Homo sapiens: one gene and its partner. Changing the gene in region 1 together with any one later gene gives a genetic interaction. Each region holds a gene or a part of one and is shown on either strand. Other genes may lie near its edges.

Region 1 (3,500 bases):
GGCTGAATTCCCAAAGGACCGGAAAGCAGGGGCAAAATTCCTGAGCCTGAGTTCTCTTTTCCCAGAGCCCAAGAAGGAGAAAATTAGGTAGTGGCATTTAATCTCCAGGACATAGGAAAGAAGAGAAAAGAGCTGTGGGAATACATTCACAATACAGAGACATGTCTCTAGAGGATTATGTGAGAGGAAGCCCTTTCCTCACAGCTACACTGATGGCTTAAAGCTGGGAAGAGGGTGGAGAGAAGGAGAACACCTTAGCCAAATGTGGGGGTGTGGGAGAATCTCACGTTGGAAGTCTTAATACATTTTGTCCTATAGAAATATGGTTAAAAAAAAGGTGTTTAAGTTCTATTATTGCTCTACTTCAGGAACAAGGTTGCCAGGTTGAGGGTTAATTAAAAAACTTTGTGTTAATAATATTGTTTCTGCAAGAAAATTTAGTTTAATTGCCAAATAGTTTACTTATAAAATGAGCTTTTGGAATCACAACTTAGTCAAGAGTTGGATACTATGGTAGATTGGATAACTTTTAGTACATATTCCCTCTTTTCTCTCCCCTCTCACCATAGGGGGAGCATTCTTTCCTCCATTCAAGTTGGCCTTAGGCATGGAACTTGCTTTGGCCAATGGAACATGGGCAGAGTGGCGGGTACTTCTTCCAAGTATGGACCTTCAGGGGCATTGCATATTTCTGCTTGCCCTTCTGGAGCATCGATACCTTCTATCATGAGAAAAACATGCCCCAGGGAGCTGCTGCCTCTCTGGCATGGGCCCCAGCATGAGACACATGGAGAAGACCTGTGCTTCACCCACGGGCAGAAGCAGATATCAAAGGCTGTTAATTCAGGAGGTAAAGCAGACACTCATTACTCACTGGGTTTCAGACATCAAGAACAGCCCAACAGGTACACTTTTCTACCTATTGTTCTGGCCTCCAAGTATAGGAAATTATGTATATGGTTGAGCATTAAGAGTCTCAGAGCACAGAAGTCCTTATTTTCAGTGAGGTATTTTATATGTCCCTGGCACACTAAATACTTATTAAATAAATCAGCAACTAGAAGAAGTATTGCTATATAGTTCTTTTGGAAAAACATCTCCCCAAAGTTGTGAATGTTTAAGAAAAGGCACGTTAAAATGACAAACAAATTACTTAAAGTAGCATGAAACTGTAAGAAAGGAAACATAATATTTACTTCTAAAGAAACATATGTCAAAGTGAATCGAGAGGCTTCTAAACCTGCATTGAAATAAACATTCAAAGATGGCAGATTTAAAAAAATGTGGATCAGAAAGACATTCCAGAATCAAAAGCCACCAGCTGCTACAAGTGTGAAAATGAAACCTCTGGAGGGACTGTTGCCTCCTGCTCCATGTGGCTGTGGCATGTGATGCCTATAGCAGCTACTGAACTGATATTTGTGCCCACCACCCAGTCTGGGTAGAGCAGGTGTCTCACTGGCACAGTGCAGACGAGCTTGACATCAGAAAAACTTACCAGAAGTAGGTCTTTGCCTAGTTCATCGATATCTGTTACAAACTTCTCAATTGGTTGGGCAGATTTTGAATGAAAAGCCTGCCTGGGAAGGGCAACATCTCTAGGCCAGTCTTCTTCTCCTGGGAGTCCAATCACGCTACAAAAGAACCACACATGGACATAAGCATTAGCTACTATGCAGAAGCTGTTTTCTCATCAATTTCCAGAGAAAGGCAAAATCTAAGGGGGAGACATGGGGGGCAGAGTCCCAGGAGACCTTCACTTTATCACTGGCAGGGTCTCTGTTTATCTCTGTCCTACTGCAATATGGTGGCCATGGGGGAGAGGGTAATCTCACAGAAGAATTGTAAAATTCAGTGGGAGGAGATAAGAGATTGCTCTGGTAGCAGACACTAAATGTAAGGGATGATGTAGAAATAGAAAATATATTACCAGGCAGTAAGCTCTGACTTAGTGACAAAGCAGGACTTATTGTATTCAGAGGAGACCCATACTGGTACATATCTTCCTTTATGTCCAAGAATGCTTTTTGTGTTTTGATCGAACACCCCAGTATTGACATGATTTTATGATGCTCATCCAACATGGTTTATTAACATATCAATTTGGTTGCATTTTTGGTTAAAGAGCAATTCCCTACATATTAAATATATACATTAGAATCAGAAGGAAAAATGAGGCTAAAACGTGCTAGTCCTGCATTATACAAACATGATTTTATAAAAGGAAGTCTGTGGTATTCCAAAGTGAGCAAACAGTAAATTAAAAGACTATTATTTATATTTCCCCTGAAAACCATTCTGGGATCAGAAATGTGGAAAGAACAGCAAGTGATAAGCACAGGCTTCGGAAATAGGCAGATTTGGGTTCAAATCCTGCACCTGCCACTTACTGGCAGGTAAGGACAAATTACTTAACATCTATGACCCTTAGTGTCTTTATGTATACAATGATAATAACTTACAGTTGTAATGAGGATCAGTTATACTTTATTTGAATTTATAGTAATATATAAATTTATAATTTAAAGTACAAAGCACAGCACCTGATATACATCACACACAGTCAATTATCAATCAATACACTGCCTACTATTATTATAATTAGAAAATGTTATTAATACAAGATGCATAGGAAATACATCACTACCACACTTAAAATATGAACTGCTTGTATCTATGTATAACTTAAGATTCTTTAAAAAATTAATGGGTCAATGGACTTACATAACTTATACATTGTATAGATATTATTTATAGTTTACATATAGGTCGTAAGTAGGTTTGAACAGAGAAAATCAGAGGATGCAGGGACTTCTTTCTCACACAGACTGTATAACTCTGAACCAAAAATAAAATCATAGTTTAGTGGACGGGGTACATAGCTATTCAAATACTGGAACAAATAATTTTAACTACAGTTAGAAATTGTGCTGGCCCACATTAGGGTCTTCTGCTTGGCCTCTACTTGTTGGGACTAAGGCCCAGGAAGAGGTGTTCTTATGAATGTACTTCCAGATTTCAGGAAGATGTGGTACAGGTCTCAAGATCTGTAGCACTTCATTTCCCCTTCCCTCACCTACACGGAGCCCAGGCCATAGACTTCAGCTGGGAAGATAACCCTGTCATCATGGCTTCTCTGCCTGGGTGTCTGGGGAAGACACTGTAATTCGGCCTCTATCAGGCATACTGAGAGAGCTACATTATTGAGGCAAAGACAGATTCATGGACATATTTACTAGAAGCAATAAATAGAAATGACAATGAGCAATATATAGATTTGTTCAATAGTACAGCCTACAATAGAAGTAAAAAGAAAAAAACCAAAAATACCACTATTAATTATGAAAAGAAATGCACGTGTAAGTGTCTGGATACAATGGGACAGGGCAGAGGAGGGAATGAAAAATGCTTGTTAGAGAGCTTTAAAAATTTCCTTTCATTCCTTTTTAGTTGTCAGGTCTATGTGTATCAATATTTTTGTGTATATTCACCAGTCAGCT
Region 2 (3,500 bases), on another chromosome or scaffold:
CAGGCAGGGTGGCTCATGCCTGTAATCCCAGCACTTTGGGAGGCTGAGGTGGACAGATTGCTTGAGCCCAGGTGTTGAAGACCAGCCTGGCCAACATGGCAAAACCCCATATCTATTAAAAGACAAACATTAGCCAGGTGTGATGGGATGCCTGTAGTCCCAGGTGCTCAGGAGGCTGAGATGAGAGGATCACCTGAGCCTGAGAAGTTGAAGCTACAGTGAGCAGTGATCGTGCCACTGCACTCCAGCCTGCGTAATGGGGGTGAGACCCAGTCTCAAAACATATATAAATATATATACAAAAAAATGACTTTACAAACATTTTCTAAATAAGTCTGCTCCTAGTACCACCTTTGGAGGATTTCAGTTACCACGTCTTCATCCAGAGAAGTGCCTGTTTGTCTTTGGAAAGAACTACATAACTACTCTTGCACATTCAACCCAATTTTATGTGCATTTTGGTTATTTGTTGATACCTGTTTTAGTGAAAACCTTTGATCCAAACCCACTGGCCCCTGAATGAGAGGTAAACTCTCTGGAAGACAGAGGGCAGGATAGCAAAACCAATAGTAGAAGTGGTACTTCTTTAGATCCTAGAAAAAAAAGTATAAATAAGTTATTAGAATAGCACCATTAACTTAAGGTGAAATGCATCTATTAATGTAGCTTCTCAAGGCCAATTAAGATAGCAAAGCTATGCAAACAAAGTCTGTCCAGCTTATCAAATATCCTCATCCCCAACAGAACTCATGATCAAATAAAGGACTTTTGTATTCCCAAAATAGTCTCATATACCACCACTAATAATATGATGACAAACATAATATACTTTATTGACCACTTGCTAACAGAAAATGTGCAATATGTAATTGATATTATCATCATCATCCTTTAACCTACAAAACCCCCCTGGGAGGTATTTACTATTATCCCATTTTATAAACAGAAAACTGAATCTTACAAAGGGGTAAAAAACCTAAACAACAACAAAAAAGATGGCAAGGGGCAGAGAAGAGATCAGAACTCTGCTTCCAAAACTTAAGCTTTTTTCCACTGACCATAGATACTTAATGTACTATCTACAGAAGCACAACTTCCAAACAGTTACCATTCTCTTCACAATCAAATAAATTACATGTTATTAAGGAAGCTGTGCTATTCACATATGTATGCATGCCTGAAATAATACAATATTGCTTTTGTAAATGGCTTAGTGGATTTAAGTCAACAACTATCAAGCCCTTGCTATGTACAAGGCAAAACATAAGACACTGACAATAAGATGAATAAACCCCAGTCCCAGACACCAGGCAGCTCACTTTGTGGACAGAGCAGAGATAAAGCGAGTGCATGATTAGAGCCATGGAGAGGCTCTAAGTAGTAAGCTGGATGGGTGAATAGAAGAGGTTACATCTTCACGGGTATATCTGACCGATCCCCCACCAGGGTAGGAGATCCAGGGGAAAGGATTTGTGAGGCTGTCTTTGACACTGTTCCCACTCACGCTAATGGCTCTTGCTTCAGAATTCTTACAGCTTTTGGGGCCTTAATTAAATTCATGGTAGCATTCCAGACATATGTGGGTATTTGGCAGCTTGCCTACAAGCCTGTGACCACTGAATATGAATGCAGTTTATGTAGCTAATTAATATTTCTTCTTGAATCTTGCTAAGAATTAAAATTGGATGGTTGTTAGATGACTTTTTATTGAGATATAATTTACGTTCCATAAAATTCACCATGTTAAAAAGTATACAATTTAGTGGTTTCTTTTTAGTATAGTGATATGGTTGTACCATCATCACTATTAATTCCAGAATATTTTCATCACTCCAAAAAGAAATCTCATACATATTAGCAGAGACTCCCCATTCCCCCTCTTCTCATCCCCTGGCAACCACTAATCTATTTTCTGTCTCTGTGGATTTTCCTAGTCTGGACTTTTCATATAAATGAAATCATACTAGATGAGTTTTAAAATGTAAATGTATATGTAATCATGTGTACAGATGAGAAAGTCTAATAATTGTAATCTCTGCGGTCTCTAATTCTGCTATTCATTGATCAACTAAGAAAAAATTCCCTCTTCACAATGGCAAAATGAACTGCAAAGCTGAAATTAATGAACTGTCTAGTCCTATGAGTCCTAAAAAACAGCAGAAGGAAAGCAAAAACACCTCCAGAGATTATTTTCTCTTCTTTGTACTTAAATGATTTGTCATAACCGATATTTAGTAAAAGGTTAAACAATTCAAGATGAAGAAACTCACAAAATCTTTTTTTTTTTTTTTTTGGAGACAGTCTTGCTCTGTCACACAGGCTGGAGTGCAACGGCACGACGATCTCAGCTCACTGCAACCTCCACCTCCCAGGTTCAAGCAATTCTTCTGCCTCAGCCTCCCGAGTAGTTGGGACTACAGGCTGCCATGCACAGCTAATTTTTTTTTTTAATTTTAGTAGATACGGGGTTTAACTATGTTGCCCAAGCTGGTCTCAAACTCCTGAGCTCAGGCAATCCGCCTACCTCGGCCTCCCAAATCGCTAGAATTACAGGCATGAACCACTGCACCCGGCCGGACCTCACGAATTCTAAGAAACTTTATCAGGTCATTTTCAAAAGTCAAAAAGCTTGCATTTCTTAGGATTCTTTTCAGGATAGAAATGACCTCCATTAAATTAAACATAAAGTCCTTGGTGTCTGAAGATTTTAAAAAGTAGATACTTACAATTTTTTTTAAGTCAGGCTAAGAATGCTCAGTAAACAAGGCAGCAAGACCAACACACATACTGACTCTAGGCAAACCTTAAAACTTTAAGTAAGAGCTAATGTTATTTTTCTCATTAAATGCAAACTGTCAGCATGTTCTACTATGAGAATTCTTGGTACAGAAAGCGTACTGACGTTCAAGTAACTAGAAATCTTTAACTAGCAATGCTTACAATTTATCCCAGTAAAGAGCCTACAGGCTGCATGCGGTGGCTCATGCCTGTAATCCCAGCACTTTGGGAGGCCGAGGCGGGCGGATCACGAGGTCAGGAGATCAAGACCATCCTGGCTAACACGGTGAAACCCCCTCTCTACTAAAAATACAAAAAATTAGCCGGGTGTGGTGGTGGGTGCCTGTAGTCCCGGCTACTCAGGAGGCTGAGGCAGGAGAATGGCATGAACCTGGGAGGCAGAGCTTGCAGTGAGCCGACATCGCACCATTGCACTCCAGCCTGGGTGACAGAGCGAGACTCCGTCTCAAAAAAAAAAAAAAAACTACAGAATTACCCAAACGTATAGACAGATTATTAATGCCAAACTGAGCCAAGTAATCAGACAAAAAATTTAAACATTTTTCTCTCTCCTCCACTATTACATAGAAAGCATTATAACTTGTTAGAAAATGTGTTCCTTGTAGATAGCCACCCACTGGCCTTGTTTGATTGCTATCATACCCTCCTTTGCCTTGGGCAATAAATCAGAGGCCTCCCCTGCATCTAGGAATCTAGGAGGA

The links.
Region 2: of CDK6 (region 1) and ATG7, changing one suppresses a phenotype caused by changing the other (phenotypic suppression), as found in Homo sapiens cells (one large-scale study listed by BioGRID).

Annotation. Positions count from the first base shown.
Region 1 is NC_000007.14:92,616,574-92,620,073, forward strand, and holds part of CDK6 (cyclin-dependent kinase 6), read right to left. Parts: intron 1,635-3,500; coding exon 1,499-1,634; intron 1-1,498. UniProt on the Homo sapiens protein: Serine/threonine-protein kinase involved in the control of the cell cycle and differentiation; promotes G1/S transition. Phosphorylates pRB/RB1 and NPM1.
Region 2 is NC_000003.12:11,310,397-11,313,896, reverse strand, and holds part of ATG7 (ubiquitin-like modifier-activating enzyme ATG7), read right to left. Parts: intron 594-3,500; coding exon 477-593; intron 1-476. UniProt on the Homo sapiens protein: E1-like activating enzyme involved in the 2 ubiquitin-like systems required for cytoplasm to vacuole transport (Cvt) and autophagy.